Homo sapiens: one gene and its partners. The protein of the gene in region 3 interacts with the protein of the main gene of each other region in a biochemical or structural test. Each region holds a gene or a part of one and is shown on either strand. Other genes may lie near its edges.

Region 1 (5,652 bases), about 200 Mb from region 3:
CTTTGGTTTAATTAGCATGCACAATCCATCTGCCAAAGTTGGTAGGCATCTTTTAAGGAAAATAACTTCCTCATGTGGCTCCTCCTTCCTTTTGCTCTGGAAGCATCAGGACTGTTTCAGTTTTGCAGGCCTTCCGCATAGCTGTTTATATCACATGCCACAATTCAAAGCAAATGGAAAAAAGGACTGGTGTGACTGAAACCCTGAAATTCAAGCGCGTGCTAAGTGAATTCAAGATCTTTTCTGTATTCCTTTTTCAAGTAACTCCAAGCGTCAGAGGGGCTAATGAATATGGCAAATCAGGTAAATATTTTACTGATGAGAATCTCCAAAGTGTAAAGTGGCTACCTCTTACCTGTGTCTAACATAGAAATAGCGGAACTAGTTGGCAAACACACAAGATGAACAGCTTGAAGAGACAGGAGCTACGGCTGATCCCTACATCTTTCCCTCCCAAATATCTACTAAAGGCAATGTTGGTTAGCCACAAACTCTCGGCATTTGAGACCGTTGATTTTTAATATTTTCTTAAAAAAATACAAAGGAAATTAACTCTGTAGGTCAATACAACTCAGGGAAAGAGGGAAAAATGGAATTTCAGAGCAAAGGTTGTTTAGGTTATCACATTCCCACACTCCTAATACCCACAAAACAAGAATTTCACTCCATGACACAGAGGAACATTGAATGGTAGCTCAGAAATGTTGATAGCTGAGGTACTGAAACTAACAAAAGGATTTTGGTTGTCCTTGATTATTCTGTCCTGTGATGAATAAAATCTACACTAAAGGACAGGTAAGGAAAACTTATAGCAGAAAAAAGACTAGATGTACCAAACACAGCAGTACAAACCACTCCTTGGCAGACATGTGCTTCTAAAAGAATGGGGCAGTAATCAGGTAGCTGAACTACTAGGCTACTGTCACTCCCAGCCCATCCCCAAATAAATAGTGTGGAAGTGTAATAGTGTAGTAGTATTTGATCCAACAAAGAAAGGCTTTCACCCCCATTCAAGGCAAACATTGCCATGGCTAGATGAGCCCTGGCAGGTAATAAGATGACTGTAAAATCACAGGTTCTTCTAGTTTATCCCCAGTTATACTGAACTCCCACATTGATGTCATCTTCTCTCATCCCAACATTTGTTCACTCTTTTATGCTGTCTCCAGTGCGAAAGACCTCGGGGAAATAAAAAGATCCTTCAAATAATATACCCTTCTCAGTCTTCCAGGTTATGTAATACTTCAGTGCTGTTCTAGGTTCACTCACAATCAAATTCAGTTTAATTCACTTAATTCTAACTTCAATTCTGATATACAAATCCTGACCTCCAAAAGAAGTGTCAGATGAGTCTCTCTCTCCCTTGTCCCCAAAGTTTTGTGGGGCTCTCCCTTTTGTTTCCCTCTAGAATGGAACTGTGTTGCCCCTAGCTACCTGTATATGAGAAAATGTAGTTGTTCCTGGAAAAAAAAAAAAAGACTTGGATTTTACCAAGTTTACTTAAACTGGTATCTTTCCAATCATCTAGGCTGGATATTGCCCATATCTAGTAGGCTATACTCACCTTAGTTCTTTGCAACATATGAGGCACAACATACATATAGTACACCAAGCATGTGGTAAGTTAGAAATGACAGGAAAGTGCTCCCCAAAGCAGTGGGAGAGGCAATGTGGTCTCTCACATCCATTCAATGTGCATTCTTTTTCCTGGAATATCTGTTACCCACCCTTCTCAGGAACAAGAACCAGGACGACGGGGAGTATGTGTCAAATAAGTACAATCATCACTGCACTGGTGCCTGTAATCACCCGGTGCACATAGTGAGAAACAGACATTCTGGAAAGGATTTTTGATTCTCCCACTAACTGTCCACTGGACTGGTCACTAGCTCTGGATGGTGCTCCAACAATGGTCACTTCTCGCGGAGAACACAAACACCAGCATCACAGCGCTGGGTTCCCATGGATGTCACGACTTCCCAGCTGTCGATGATAGGGTCATAACATTCAATGCTACTTAGCAGGGAATTACCATCATATCTGAGTGGGAAAGAAGCAAAAGAAAGAAATGAGTCAGCTGCGTGCAGTGGCACGTGCCTGTAATCCCAACTATGCAGGAGGCTGAGGTAAGAGGATTGCTTAAGCCCAGGAGGGAATTTGAGACCAGCCTGGGCAACATGGTGAGACCCTGTCTCAATAAAATTTAAAGAAAGAAAGAAAGAAATTAGCCTTCTATTCCTTTCCACACAAGTCCTTCATTAAGGCTGCCACTGGAGGCCAGGCATGGTGACTCTCACCTGTAATCCTAGCACTTTGGGAGACTGAGGTGGAAGGATTGCTTGAGCCCAGGAGTTGGAGACCAGCCTAGGCAACATAAAAAACTAGTCTGGCACAGTGGCGTGCACCTGTGGTCCCAGCTACTCTACTCAGACTCCAGCCTGGGTGACAGAGCAATACTCTGTCTCTAAAAAATAAAAAAAATCTAATAAAAAAAATCAAGTTGCCACTGGAGATGTCTACCCCTACCCAAGTCTTGTCTCTGTCCAAAAATGAGGATCAGATCACATAGACTCTTGCTCTGGCTACATATTGAGTCTGGATTCGTTTCTAAATCCTCACCCTGCAATTGCATAGAGTCTCCCCCGAAGCACTGTGGCCCCTACATAGCATCGTGGAGTGGTCATACTGGTGACAGTTGTCCAGGAATCAGTGCGAATGTTGTATGCTTCAACGGAAGAAAGGTGGGCTGTACCATCAAATCCCCCCACCACATAAATATGGTCATTCAGCAGGGCTACTCCTGCACCTGGGGAAAATGAATGCATTAGCAAATGTATGGTACTAAGCCTAGAATCTGAATTATAGAAATAAACTACGGTCACTAATGACTAGCTGAGTTCTACAGTAGATGAGGGATATGGAATGGGCCCACACGGGCCTAGAATAATCTAGTCCAGCACAAGTTATTCCATCTATAAACCCTTTGGCTTGGACTTGAAATGATAAAAGATAAATAATAAAAATGGTTCTCTTCTTTACTTTCATTAACTCAGAGCCCAACCCTTCTAATTAGGAGAAAGGGAGGAAGTGAAAAAAAGGTGGCAATAAAGGTAGATGGAGGGAAAGGAGTTGTGATTATGGTTCTGAAGCAATTTTTACCCAGAGTAAGTAAACTAGAACAGCACAGTGCTCTCTCCTTTTCTATATCCCAGCCTGCTCCACTTCAAAAAGCTCTTGGTGAAGGTAAGTAGCTACTCTTTTGTCCTTATGCATTAGAGACTTTATTTAACAGATATTTATTAAGCATGTACTACACAGGCAAAATTGTACTAGATATTCTAAAACGTAGGGAGAGAACAAAGACATGAAGGCTTTTGCTTTCAAATTTATAATCTAGTTGTAAGTATCAACTGTCTTTATCCTAGTATTTAGAGAAAACAGAGACAAGGAGGAGAGCAGAATCTCATTTTTACATTAATCTACGGTTTGTCCCATGCACCACCATTATATATGTAAAGGTCTGACAGCATCGCCTATTGTCCCCTCCCTCAGATCTGGTCTTACCAGAACGCTTGGTGGCCATTGGTGTAACATTAGTCCAATGTCCTGTATGAGGGTCGTATTTCTCAACTGAATTTAAGATATTCAAGCCGTCATATCCTCCTGGAAGACAGAGACCATTCCAGAAAGAGTGGTAAATCCTCATGCCCATTCCTGGTCGGTTTTTTTCTGAGTGCTTCAACTAATTATTTTAGTTTCAATTTTCCCACAAGAGTTCCAATAACTCTAAGAGAAATCTGACATTATGCTTATAAGAAAAAGATAATCCCAATTAATGGAAAATATATTAAGACACACCAGGGTTTTAGTTGAAGGGAAGTCTATGAACGTCATTTTGGTAAAAAGGAATCCTTACCCACAGCCCATTACCCATTGAGTTCCCTCCCATTCCTGCATCCCAGACTCAATACCTAGACAGTAGATCACTCCACTGGCCACTACGAGTCCGGCACCTTCCCGGGCTGTCTGCATATCTCCCAGCATGCTCCACTGGTCAATGTTTGGATCATAGCGCTCCATACTGGTGTGACGCCTGCTTCCATCAAAGCCTCCAGAGACATAGATCATATCTGCTCAGAATAAACAAATTACAGACTATTAGAGAATGAGAGATTTCTAAGAACTCTTTCCTCTACAAATTTTCCAAGGGTCCTTTAAAAGTCTGAGAGCAAAAACAAAGTATTTTTAAATGAGATAAGTCAATTAAGTTTTATAGACAAGGAAGACATCTAAAAAGAATGGGGTAAAACAAAATCCTTAAAAGCATTCAAAGACCACCTAGGAGTTTGCAAAAACACAACTAGTGCCAGTTCCCCACCCAGCACATTGGAACTTGATTTGCCAACTTTGTAGTCAATAATGAAACATCCATGAATATTGAACAGCTTCTATTACACTGATATTTCTGAAAGCAAAAAGGAGTATTTGTCGGCTGGGCACAGTGGCTCACACCTGTAATCCCAGCACCTTGGGAGGCCGAGGTGGGTCAATCACTTGAGCTCAGGAGTTAGAGATCAGCCTGGGCAACATGGCGAAACCCCATCTCTACTAAAAATACAAAAATATAGCTGGGCATGGTGGTGCATGCCTGTAGTCCCAGCTACTCAGGAAGCTGAGGTGGGAGGATCGCTTGAGCTTGGGGAGGTTGAGGCTGCAGTGAGCCGTGATCACACCACTGCACTCCAGCCTGGGCAACAGAGAGAGACCCTGTCTCAAATAATAATAACATTTGACCTTAATTTTTTCTCCGTATTTCATGCTCCTGCCAGACAACAGGAGAGGTTAAAAACCCTGGTCCAGCCACAGTAAGATGGAAATAATTGCCCTGCACATCCAGCCTACCTCCCAGGGTGGTGGCTCCAGCAAGACCTCGTCGGACATTCATAGGGGCCACAGAATACCAGACCCCATCCTCATCTGCTGTGTAGTCTAGACATTCCACTGAACTAAGGCGGGAACGGCCATCATAGCCACCAATGACGTAGATCCGGTCATGAAGGGACACTGAGGCCACATAACGTCTCTTACGAGTGATGCTCTATGGATTTGGAGAGAAGAGGTACAGAGCATTTCAGTTAGGCAAGTTTTGGGCCTTACCTTTTGCTATCTTCCCTGTTGTATCTGCACACCTCTCTGCTTCTTCACCTGTCATCATGAACCCTCCTTAAGTGGTTCATCCTCAAGTGGCTCCCAAATAGCTACCTACTGAACGAAATGCCTGTTGTGGTGCTCTTAAAGATACAAGCTTTCTGCATCTCTGCCTCTTTCCAAGGCTTCCAAAAGATTTAACAGCTTTCTGTTATCCAATATCTGACTCCTTTCTCTTCCATAAGGCACTGGGCTAAGAGACTGATATCCTTCCATAAAGTAGAAAAGTATTCCCACATTGCTAATCAAAGGATGAGGATTTATTATAAGAACCTTAAAAGGTAGGAGGGTTGGATTTCCATGTTTTCTCAGAAATTACTATTGTTCATTCAGCACTGAGAGACATGCTGAGGGAGACAGATACAAACTTTTTTTTTCTGAGTTGGGATCTCACTATCACCCAGGCTGGAGTGCAGTGGCACAATCACAGTTCACTGCAACCTC
Region 2 (7,037 bases), on a different chromosome or scaffold from region 3:
AGCTGGGAGGCCAGAGAAGGCATACCCCTACAAACGGAGCCGTGGAGAATTCCCTCCTTATTTCTGTTTTGGGGAGAAAAGAGACAGAAGAGAACCCTTAGGGATCAGGGCCCCAAAGGCCCACTGGAAATAGTAGAGGCATCCCCTTCTCCACACAGGAGCCCCTCTTACTACTGTCTTCAGTTGCACAAATTCCAAATTGCTAAAGGTAACGTTTATTTCCTTCCTTTTGGGAAAGCTCAGGTGCCCCAACAATGGGAAGCAGCTGGCCAAGAGATTTCCTGCAGGGGAGGTCCAGGGAAGTCCCAGTCCTCCGCGCAGCCTGACAGACTCCCCAGGCCTGGCCTCAGGCCCCGCTGCAGGCCTACCCAGGGGCCCCACCTCCACCCTCCTTCACCTCCCCTCCCCACACACCCTGCCTCTCCCCCGGGCCCTGCCCACTTCCCCAAAGCCCTGCCTCTCCTGAGACCCTCTCCTGAGACCCCACCTCTGCTCCAGGCTCCACCTCTCCTCCAGGCTCCACCCTTCTCACGAGGCCCCCGCCTCTCGTCCAGGCTCCACCCATCTCCCCCAGTCCCTGCCTTTCCCACAGGTCCTACCCACCTCCCCCAGACCCCGCCTCTCTCCAGGCTCCACCTCTCTCCCCAGGCTCTGCCTCTCCTCCAGGCTCCACCCCTCTCCCCAGGCCCCACCCCTCCTCCAGGCTCTATCACTCTCCCCCAGGTCCCACCCATCTCCTCCAGGCTCCACCCATCTTCCCCAGGCCCTGCCTCTCCCCTAGGTCCCACCCATCTACCCCAGGCCCCACCTTTCCCCCTGGGCCCAGCCTCTCCTCTGGACTCTACCCCTCCCCAGATCCCCTTCCTTCCCCAGGCCCTACCTCTCCCCGAGCTCCTTGTGCTCCAGCTCCAGATTCCGATGCAGTGTCTTTAGGCAGCTGTGCTGGCGGATGAGGGCCTCGTACTCGGCCGATTGCCGCTCGTGCAGCGTGCCCAGGTGCTCGTGGTCCTGCAGCAGGGCCTCGTAGGCCGCTGTAAGTTGCTCCTGCTGCCTCTGCAGGCTTTCGTTCTCCGTCTCCTTGGCCGTGTGGTGGTTCTGCAGCAGCGTGTACTGCGCGGTGAGCGCTGCGCTCTGGGAACTCAGCGTGGAGTTCTCCACCTGCCGAGAGGGAGAAGCGCGGCGTGGCGCAGGCCCCACAGTCAGCGAGGAGGGCTGGGGAGCAGGTCAAGTGCTCGAGCAGACACGAAAATAGCCGGGACCCTCAGGGCAGAAGACCCAGAGGGTACCCAGGATGGCTGTTCCAGAACTTAAGCAACTGCTGTGGGAAGGGGACTAAACCGCATAGACGGGCACTCAGAGGGTACTTCAGTCCTGAGCCACTCGCCACAAATGTGAGCTGCTGGGGCAGATGATGTCCTTTCCCTGGATAACTCCCTTGTGTGCTGTGCCCTCTCTGACTATTTTTTAAAAACCTCTTTTCAGCTGACTGTGGTGGCTCAGGCTTGTAATCCCAGGACTTCAGGAAGCAGAAGCAGGAGGGTCACTTGAACCAAAGAATTCAAGACCAGCCTGAGCAACATAGTGAGACCCCATCTCTACAAAAAAAAAGTATTTTTAACTTAGCTGGGCATGGTGTTGTATGCCTATAGTCCCAGCTACTTGGGAGGCTGAGGCAGGAGGACTGCTTGAGCCCAGGAGTTGGAGGTTATAGTGAGCTATGATTGCAGCACTGCACTCCAGCCTGGGCGACAGAGTGAAACCCTGTCTCTTACAATGAAAACAGAACCTATTTTCTAGAACAAGTATACAGAATATCTGTAAATAAGGATATAGAATACCTGAACAATACTATCAACCTACTTAACATAATTGATATTTGTATACCTCTCCATCCAACAACATCCAAAATCATCAGAAAACTGAAGAGGAGGGAATACTTCCCAAATCATTTTATGAAGCCAGAATTACCCTGATATTAAAACCAGATTAAGACTGTAAGAAAAATTCAAAATAGTAAGTCAATATACTATTTTCTTGTTACCAGAACAAATTCCGATTTCTTTGCCAAACAGTTTCCTGTTGATTGTCCTTGCCCCATAAGATACATATTTTCAAACTTTTCTCAGAAATTGCAATAAAAAGCCAGGTGTGGTGGCTCACGCCTGTAATCCCAGCACTTTGGGAGGTGAGGTGGGTGGATCATTTGAGGTCAGGAGTTCGAGACCAGCCTGGCTAACTTCGTGAAATCCCATCTCTACTAAAAATACAAAAATTAGCCAAGGCACAAGAATCACTTGAACCTGGGAGGTGGAGCTTGCAGTGAGCCGAGATCGCACCACTGCACTCCAGCCTGGGTGACAGAGTGAGACTCCATCTCAAAACAAACAAACAAAAACTGCAATAAATAATTTATTTCCCCACAGTCTATAGGCGATAAATGAAAACAAGCATCTGAAGTGGCACACAACCTAGTTCTGCTTGATGCTCTCAACAGTCTGGGAGCCACTTAATATCCTACACTTCCCTCTTAGAGATTAAAAATTCACATTAGCTTAAAAAGAAAGAGTTCTGCCAGGTTCTACAGTAAAGAAACCTGGTTAACTTTGTTAAACCAAGCTTAATCCTGAAACCTCTTTTCCAAGTCAGTCCTAGTAACACTTCAAGGAAAAGACTGGAAAACATGGACAAGAATGCAAGTAAAAGGAGAGAAATGAAATGAAAATGGCCCATGCAGCCATTTTCTCAATCACTGAAAATGGCTTAAAAACTATCACCCCCTTCACTGATCACTGTTTACAGCGGGTCTCTATTAACAAAATCCCAAACTGCTTTGTGCTTTGATCTGCTGCTTTTGAGGAGTCCTAATGCCCCCAGTTGGTCCCCAGGAGCCACAGATAAACATCCCGCCAGGCTTGTGACCACTGGTGTTGGGAGCCCCGCTCACCTGCAGCTTGGCGGTCTGGGTCTGCAGTGTGGTGTTGTGCTCCTGCAGGAAGGCGCTCTGTTTCTGCAGTGTCAAGATCTGGCTGCTGAAGGTCACGTTCTGGGTCTCCAGGTGCTGCAGCTGTTCCTTTAGCAGCTGCTTCTCAGCCTGCAGAGCTGCATTCTAGAAGATCGGGAGGCATGAGCGAATCAAACTCCAACTGGGTAAATGCTAACTGGCCACAGGTACTTGGGTTGTAACGAACCCTCAAAAGTTGATGTTTTGGGGGCCAAATCGAGGGTCCGCTGGATGAGGTCAGTATATTTTCTCTCTTTGAAAAAGATAATCAGCAGGATTTTTTTTAAAGGCTACACATCATGGGGACACTGCCTGACACCTGCATATGTGAGTGGGAGGTGAATGCATGCTGGAGTTAAAGCTGCTTCCTTTGTCTCTTTAATGCTTTCCTTTGTTTTCTGTTGAACACCCTAAGAGTGCATTTCTGTGAGCTGGTTCCATCTCCCATTGACTCCAACCCTGAGTATCTCACAGGACAGGGAGTCAAAGCCTTAGGCTACAGCCTTACTCAGAGGTGACAGCAAGTAGAATAAGGCACTTCACATTATGTGAGACTAATAAAGACCATGTTAAAGTTTGCCACCAACTGGGCTAAGGGCCAGGACCTGTAGTCTTTTACTATCCCTTATTAGCATGGGGCTTTGGGTCAAGTCTCTGAAATTCTGTTTGAGCTTTATCATCGATCAAATAATGAAAATCACCACTCTGAACTTCATAAAGTCATTGTTGAGAATCAAAGTCAGAGGCACGGACATGCATTAGCAGACTTTTTCTAGAAAGGGCCAGATAGGAAATACTTTTGGGTTTGCCAGCCATGGGGTTTCCATCTCAACCTAAAGAATCATTGTCACTGTAGGGGAAGCAGCCCCAGACAACCTCTAAACAATGGGCATGACTGTCTGCTAATAAAACTTTATTTACAAAAGCAGGTGGGGGCTGGAGTTTCCCAATCCCTGGTACTGGGCACTGAAAGACACAACACTACAGGAAGAGGCTGAATTGCCATGAAGGCTGTGTGTGCCCCTGATGTGAGAATCACGGAAGGGACCTCAAATGAAGAGGGGCCCACAGGACCTGCAACTCAAGACGTGTCCAACTAGATCTGGCTAAATCTCCTGTGTTCTTTACAGCAATGACAAGTCATCAATGGGACTACTGATAAGGCAGTCTCTCTCTCTCTGTCCCCGATGGACCATGCCCAGGCCAGCCCACTCACATTCCGCTCCAGCTCGATGGCCCGGTCCTTCACTCGGAGAAGCTCCATGGTGGCTTCCTTATGGCCGGGCCCCCAGGCCTCCTTCCCCTGGTGACTGGCGGCTGTCTTCCCCGCAGGGTGCTTGAAAGAGTTCTGCAAGTGCTGCCCCTCTCCCTGGTTCTGCCTGAGGGTCTCACACTCCTTCTTTAGCTACAGGTGTGACAATAAGCAAGGAGGCTTTAGGCGGAAGCAGCCTGGCCTGGAGCCCCGAGTGAGTGGCTGAGGGCAACCTGCACCACACCCTCCACACTCCCCATACTCGCCCGCCCTGGTCTGTGTAAGCCAGACGCGCTCCTTTTCTTTTGAGGGGAAGGCACCAACCCTCTGCCCTACATTTTCCCTTCCCTTCCAGAGAGGACAGGGAGGTGGGGGCCTGCAACCCGTTCCTGCCTCAGTCCCTGCTTTAGCCATGTGGCTTCCTGCTTTCCTGAGCCTCAGTTATCCACTCCCTCAAACAGAGGTGAGGCTGAGGATACAGGAGGTGAACAGGGATGAGGTCTCAAAGCCCCTGCTGGCACTGGAGCAGCTTTATCCAGATTCCTATTCAATCCTGCAGCCAAGAAGCATGGCATGTGTTCAAAACTGAGGCTGGAAGAGTGCGTGTGTGGAAGGGGGGAGTGTGCACACCTGATCACCTGTGAGAGTGTGCACATTGAGAGCACGTGTCGGGTGTGTACACCTGTGTGTGAGGAGCATGTGTTTGTGTGTGGAGTGTGCACACACGTGGTGGGCACATGTATAATACATGTGTGTAGAGAGCATGCATGTACATGTGTAAGGAGCATGTGCATATGTGGAGAGTGTGTATGTGTGGAGAACACACATCTATATGTGTATGGAAAGTGTGTTCACACATGTGGCAAATACGTGTGCATGCATGCACCCAGAAGTAGACATGTGCATGTCCTCATGAGTCCCTGTGCACCCATCTGTCTCATCAGAGGGCACCCGTGAGACTCTGCAGGCCGTTGCTCAGTGCCCAACGTGCAGTTTCATGGAGGGCTCTCAGGGGTGTTCCCGTATCTTGCCTGGTGGACTTGGTGCTGCTCTAGGCCACTGCCCGCCTCCCCGCAGGCCTGTGGCTCTTATTCTGGTTCTGTTTGGCCCTAGTGCGTGTGATTCTGAGGGTGGCTCCCTCAGTCACTCTGTGGCGCATCTACCCCTGCCCTAGAAAATGGGTATCCAGGCCACCCCACTGCTATACAGGTGAGGGGCTGGAAAGGGTGAGGCTGAGAATGGGCAGCTGGGCCCCACAGTGCAACCTCCACACTCACCATCTGCAGCTCACTCTCTAACTGGCGATTTAGGCTCGCTTTCTCTTCCATCTGTGCTTCTAAGAGCACAATCTTTTCTTCTTTCATGGCTAGTGTTGTTTTTAATGCTGATTCATTTCTGCCCTCCAAAATCTTGTATTTTCTGGAAAACACAAAGATACAATAGTATCACTTATCTACTTCCTCTCCGCAAGTTCCCAGTGTCCTCGCTGCCAACACATCACTCCTTCCATTAGGCTGGGTTACGGAGCTGCTGCAGCTTTTGGCCCAGAAGAACTCACGAGCCAAAACTCATCTTCCCAGAGCCCTTTGGGGGGTTCCCTGGGTAGAAACACCTGTGAAACCTTCAAAGGCGACACCACGGCTACAGTTTTACAGTCACTGTCTGAGGCAGGAATTATTATTGCCATTTTACCGAAGGGGAAACTGAGTCTCAGAAAGGTTAAGCAATTTGCCCAAGGTCACAGTGCTAGGTTAAGTGGTAAGTCTAAGGCCTTTCCACCAGAGAGGACTCCTACTATAAGGCATGTGGATCTTCTCGGTTACAAGTCCAGGAAAAGTCCAAGATGTTCGATTTCCCAAAAAACAAGATCAGGCCGAGCACAGTGGCTCATGCCTGTAATCCCGGCACTTTGGGATGCCAAGGCGGGAGGATCACTTGAGGTCAGGCGTTCGAGACCAGTCTGGCCAACATGGTGAAACCCCGTCTCTACTAAAAAAATACAAAAATTAGCTGGGCATGGTGATGCATGTCTGTAATCTCAGCTACTCAGGAGGCTGAGGCGTAAGAATCACTTAAAACCAGGAGGCGGAGGTTTTCATCACTGAGCCGGGATCACACCACTGCACTCCTGCCTGGATGACAGAGTGACACTTCGTCTCAAAACAACAACAAAACCCATTATCATTTAAGCAAGCATTGCAGGGAAAAACTGTAATAGTCTAATTTTTTAAAAAAATTAAGAAGCGTGGCTGGGAGCAGTGGCTCACACCTGTAATCCCAGCATTTTGGGAGGCTGAGGTGGGCAGATCGCTTTGAGCTCAGGAGTTCAAGACCAGCCTGGCTAATATGGCGAAACCCCCTCTATACAAAACATACAAGGATTAGCCAGGTGTGGCGGTGCATGCCTGTGGTCCCAGCTAGGTAGTGGTCTCCAGCTAGGGCTGGAGGATCGCTTGAACCCGGGAGGTGGACATGGAGGTAAGCCGAAATCATAATACTACACTCCAGCCTGGACAACAGAGCCAGACCCTGTCTCAAAAAAAAAAAAAAAAAAATTAAGAAGCTTTTTCATCAGACAAAATCTCCTTCCACACCTATCTGAGAACCTCAAGGAACAAGAGCTGGAACAGAAACGACCAAGGAACTTTGGGTTCAAGGAACCGCGTGAGGTCACAGCCCTCGGCAGTAGAGAGTTCATGGAGGTCTCAGGGGAGGGTGAGGAGCCTGCAGACTGAACAGTGGAGGAAGTGCTCCCACGATGGGGAGAGGGAGAAGAGGCCCTCA
Region 3 (4,678 bases):
GCCACCCAGCTGACCCGGTGCGGCCCATCGACCCCGCCGCCTGGCTGTCCCACACGGCGGCACTGACAGGAGCCCTGCCCCGCTACGGTACGAGTCCCTGCTCCAGCGCCGTCACGCGCACCAGCTCCTCCTCACTAACCAGCTCCGTGCCTGGTGCTCCACGTAAGTGGCAGCTCCTGAGGGCCCCAGCAGAAACCGAGGCTTGGAGGGGGCGTCTCTGCCAGCCTCCAGCATGGCCGCCTGTGGCCGTCATGGGGCTGTGACACGTGTGTGTTGCCTGTCCCCAACTCCCTGCACAGACGTGTGCACAGGCACCCGTGCCCACCTTGTGCAGCCCATCCTGCTCATGGTCTGTGTGTTGGGAACAGGGGATGTACGTAGGGCCCCTATGCGGGGAGCACCCACGGCGTCAGAGGCAGGGGCCAGGTCTCCATTCTGCTTCCTGCCATTAACACGACTAACAGCCTGCGCTCTCGGGTGGGGCATGCGGGGAGGGGAAGGGGCCTGCCCTGTTCTCATTACTTCCTGGTCTGCAGGGTGGGGTGTCAGCCCAGTTTGTGCCTAGGATCCTGATGAAAAGTGTCTGTAGAAGTGGGAGACTAAATGTCCAACCCCCCTGCTCACGCCCCAGCCTCACGGGGGTGCATCCTGCAGTGGGCCGGGGCCCTGCTGTCACGCACCGTCCAGCTTGCGCCCTGGCGCAGGCTCTGCCCAGAGGCTCCCCTGGGGGTGCAGGGCCCTGAGTCCCCCGCCTTCAGATGCTGGGGCTGAAGCGGGGCTGTCTGTGCTTTGCAGAGCTGGAAGAGGCGCCGCTGACGGTGAAGAGTGACATGAGCGCCGTCGTCCGGGTCATGCAGCTGCCAGACTCGGGACTGGAGATCCGCGACCGCATGTGGCTCAAGATCACCATCGCCAATGCCGTCATCGGTGAGTGGCCGTCCCCGCGGGCGGATAGTGCCAGGGGCAGGGCTGCTTGCCTCGAGGCTGCGGGCTGACCGCTGGTGCCGGCCAGGGGCGGACGTGGTGGACTGGCTGTACACACACGTGGAGGGCTTCAAGGAGCGGCGGGAGGCCCGGAAGTACGCCAGCAGCTTGCTGAAGCACGGCTTCCTGCGGCACACGGTCAACAAGATCACCTTCTCCGAGCAGTGCTACTACGTCTTCGGGGATCTCTGCAGCAGTGAGTGGGGGCTTCGGGCTTCAGGGCGGGGGGGAGGGGAACGCCGGAGGCCCCTCCGCGGCCCTCACCTACCCTCCCCCGCCAGATCTCGCCACCCTGAACCTCAACAGTGGCTCCAGTGGGACTTCGGATCAGGACACGCTGGCCCCGCTGCCCCACCCGGCTGCCCCCTGGCCTCTGGGTCAGGGCTACCCCTACCAGTACCCGGGACCCCCACCCTGCTTCCCGCCTGCCTACCAGGACCCGGGCTTTAGCTATGGCAGCGGCAGCACCGGGAGTCAGCAGAGTGAAGGTGAGAACGCCGCCCCTACCTGCCCTTCCCCGGCTCCGCCCCCAGCTCCGCCCCACTCCACTGCTGCTCCGCCCCCAGTTCCACCCCACCCCGCTGCTGCTCCACCCCCAGCTCCACCCCACCCCGCTGCTGCTCCGCCCTGCTTCTCTGCTGACCCCAATCCCATGCTCCTGCTGTGTACTTGGGCCCTGGGTGGGCTCCTTCTGGAAAAGGCAAGTGCCAGGGGGATCCAGGAGCCAGTGTGAATGGGGAGGACAGGGAAGCGTCTCACACAGGGGCAGCCTGGACCCCACCTCATCTGGGTGGGATTGGGATGAGGGGCCTCCAGGAGCCTGGCGGCCTGGGCGGCTGTGCCTGGTAGGGGTGGCGGCTGGTGGTTCTCCTATGGTAGAGGCAGGAGGCCCTGAGACCATGTGGCCATGGGCCATGTGACAAGGACAGGGCAGGGGTGGCCAAGGAGTCTGACAGGGTCACTTTCTAGGCCCCAGGACACAGGAGGGTGGCAGCTGCAGCCCGGGTAGGGAGCCTGACGTGGATGGTGCCGTGCATCCTAGCCTTGTGCCCCTGGCTGGGGTGTGTTTAGGGGCCGGGGATCCAGAGTGTTCCTGAGGTGTTGCCTGGTGGAGCAGAGGCCCCAGTGGGTGGGGTTGGTGAGGCCAGCAGGGGCGTCTGCAGGCCAGGGAGGGGTGCAGGTGGCTTCGTGGAGGGCCCAGGAAGGAGGGCGAGAGAGGAGAGGCGGCCAGAGGGTGTGGGACCGCAGAGAAGCCACGCTGGGTGTCTACTGACCCTCGACCGGCGCTTGCGCCCACTTCAGCCCCGCCCAGCCCGCGGTCAGTCCCCACTGGTGGCGGGTGGGTGCTGGGCAGGTGCCAGGCAGCCGGGCGTGTAACTCGTGCTATCCCTTGTCTTGTGCTAAACAAGCCTTAGACTGAAGGACTAGCGGAGCGGACCTTGGGCCGGTAAGCCAGGGTCCCGCCCGGGGTCCCTCAGCATGTCCCCAGCCAGCCACGCCCTCCAGCTCCCACTGCGTCTTGGGAGCCCAGGACAGGGCTGAGCTGAGTCATCCGTCGGCCAGGGTCCTGGGCCGGGGGGACAGTGGGGCCTTGGGTGGGGAATCCAGGATGGCCACGGGGGCACCGGGCATGAGGGGCCCTCGCTGGCACCTCAGTCTTTCAGCCGCAAGACCAGGCCCTCAGCTCAAGCATCGGGGTGAGGTGTGGGGGCGCCCAGCTTGCCCCAGGACCCTGCCTGCCTCCCACTGCCCCCACCAGCCCATGCCTGCCGCAGCTGCCCCTGCGACCCTGGGGGTGCCGGCCCTGTCCTCGCGCCTGCATGGCTGCCCCACCCACCCGTCCTGCACGGGCCACCGTTCCTGCCCGGTCACCTGGCGGGGGCGGTTGTTCTGGACGTGGCCGGGCCTGGTGCTGACAGGCTCCTTCCCCATCCTGTTCTCACTCCCAGGGAGCAAAAGCAGTGGGTCCACCCGGAGCAGCCGCCGGGCCCCGGGCCGTGAGAAGGAGCGTCGGGCGGCGGGAGCTGGGGGCAGTGGCAGTGAATCGGATCACACGGCACCGAGTGGGGTGGGGAGCAGCTGGCGAGAGCGTCCGGCCGGCCAGCTCAGCCGTGGCAGCAGCCCACGCAGTCAGGCCTCGGCTACCGCCCCGGGGCTCCCCCCGCCCCACCCCACGACCAAGGCCTATACAGTGGTGGGGGGGCCACCCGGGGGACCCCCTGTCCGGGAGCTGGCTGCCGTCCCCCCGGAATTGACAGGCAGCCGCCAGTCCTTCCAGAAGGCTATGGGGAACCCCTGCGAGTTCTTCGTGGACATCATGTGACTCGTGGCGCATGCCCCAGCCCTGCCTGAGGTGGGGAGCTGGCGGTCCTGCCGCATGCAGAGCTCGCGTGGGCTTGCCTTCGTGGGGGCCAGGACGGGAGGCAGGGTGGGGGGCAGGCTGGACCACCACCATCTGCCCTGGCAGCCTGGCTGCTCCAGCTCCTGACAGCACCTGTGTCTGAGCAGCCGTGTTGGGGGCGCTCCCTCTCTGCCCCTCAGCGAGAGCCTCGGACCTCCCAACCCCTTGTGTCTGGTGGGGATCCCTCCTGGGATGAGGAAGACCCCCTCGGGCTCTCGGCTGACCCCCACCTCCTGCACAGCTGTGCCCAGGCCCCCAGGGTGGTCCATGCGGGGCAACCCCCTGCGGTGCACAGGCCCCCTGTCTGGAGTAGGGATCTAATTTATTTATTTATTGCCTGGCCGGTGACTCGGGGGAGGAGGCGACCCTGTCATCTGTCCCACCTGCTGCTGCCCCTTGGAGCAGCCTGCACCTTCTCTCCTCCCATCCGGCAACAGTCTGAAAGTACGTGGAGGACGGGACCGGAAGACGAGAGAGGGCTGGACATCCTGCCCACCGTGTCCCAGCCAGGGCAGGGAGGGACCATGGCCCGCAGGGTCAAGGGGCCCCGATGTGCACAGCTGCCACAGGGAGGGAGGTCTTGGGGAGATGGGCAGTCAGGTGGCCCGTCCTTGGTGAGTGCACACACTGCGCGCACACATCGCGGCCTTCCTGGCTTCTCTGGCCCCCACGTGTCTGTGCTGTAGATACTGTATCAAAGTCCCAGCGTTTAGATGGTTAACATAGAGCTGCTTCTGTGTAAATGCTGCTTATTTTAAACACTAAAAAGCGTTTAATTTTATGGGACAGATGTGTGGCCTGTGCCCCTTCTCTCCGGCTGGGCTGCCTTGGAATGAGGCACAGGGAGCTGGTCCAGCCTCCCCTAGGCCCTGCTGGGAGCTGACCCTGGGACTCTGACCGGAGACCCTGTGTGGGCCTGGCGGCGTGCTGGCGTCAGATCCTGGTGGGCAGTTTTCTGTCCATGGTGCTGGCTCCGGGGTCCTGGTGGTCGGTGCTGGCCGTGGTGCTGGACCCCGCCCCCACCCCACCTGGGCTCTGTCCCTGGTACTGGTGACAGTCATGATGCTGTCTACCCACTGGGCAAAGGGCAGAGTAGGAAGCTGGGTGCCACCCCTACCTCGGCGGGCTCTGCCCTGGGCATATGCCTGTGTGCCCCCACCTGGCCTCCCACTGCTGTGGTGCCTGGCAGGGTGCAGGATGGGGGCCCTGGTGGGACATGGTCAGGTCGGCAGGGCCTGATTTGGGCTTCCAGCCATCTGGCCGGGGCCTCCCTGCGTCCTTTTCCTGAGCTCA

The links.
Region 1: the proteins of DVL1 (region 3) and KLHL12 are reported together in a solved structure, tested with the Homo sapiens proteins (one study listed by BioGRID).
Region 2: the proteins of DVL1 (region 3) and CCDC88C form a complex in vitro, tested with the Homo sapiens proteins (one study listed by BioGRID).

What each region holds. Positions count from the first base shown.
Region 1 is NC_000001.11:202,890,620-202,896,271, forward strand, and holds the end of KLHL12 (kelch-like protein 12), read right to left. Parts: intron 5,099-5,652; coding exon 4,903-5,098; intron 4,131-4,902; coding exon 3,972-4,130; intron 3,664-3,971; coding exon 3,565-3,663; intron 2,807-3,564; coding exon 2,620-2,806; intron 2,041-2,619; coding exon 1,914-2,040; 3' UTR 501-1,913; downstream 1-500. UniProt on the Homo sapiens protein: Substrate-specific adapter of a BCR (BTB-CUL3-RBX1) E3 ubiquitin ligase complex that acts as a negative regulator of Wnt signaling pathway and ER-Golgi transport.
Region 2 is NC_000014.9:91,302,821-91,309,857, forward strand, and holds part of CCDC88C (protein Daple), read right to left. Parts: intron 5,673-7,037; coding exon 5,531-5,672; intron 4,407-5,530; coding exon 4,218-4,406; intron 3,107-4,217; coding exon 2,945-3,106; intron 1,159-2,944; coding exon 881-1,158; intron 1-880. UniProt on the Homo sapiens protein: Required for activation of guanine nucleotide-binding proteins (G-proteins) during non-canonical Wnt signaling. Binds to ligand-activated Wnt receptor FZD7, displacing DVL1 from the FZD7 receptor and leading to inhibition of canonical Wnt signaling.
Region 3 is NC_000001.11:1,334,771-1,339,448, reverse strand, and holds the end of DVL1 (segment polarity protein dishevelled homolog DVL-1), read left to right. Parts: intron 1-9; coding exon 10-162; intron 163-795; coding exon 796-927; intron 928-1,012; coding exon 1,013-1,180; intron 1,181-1,265; coding exon 1,266-1,472; intron 1,473-2,393; coding exon of another isoform or gene 2,394-2,404; exon of another isoform or gene 2,405-2,431; intron 2,432-2,933; coding exon 2,934-3,307; 3' UTR 3,308-4,171; downstream 4,172-4,678. UniProt on the Homo sapiens protein: Participates in Wnt signaling by binding to the cytoplasmic C-terminus of frizzled family members and transducing the Wnt signal to down-stream effectors. Plays a role both in canonical and non-canonical Wnt signaling.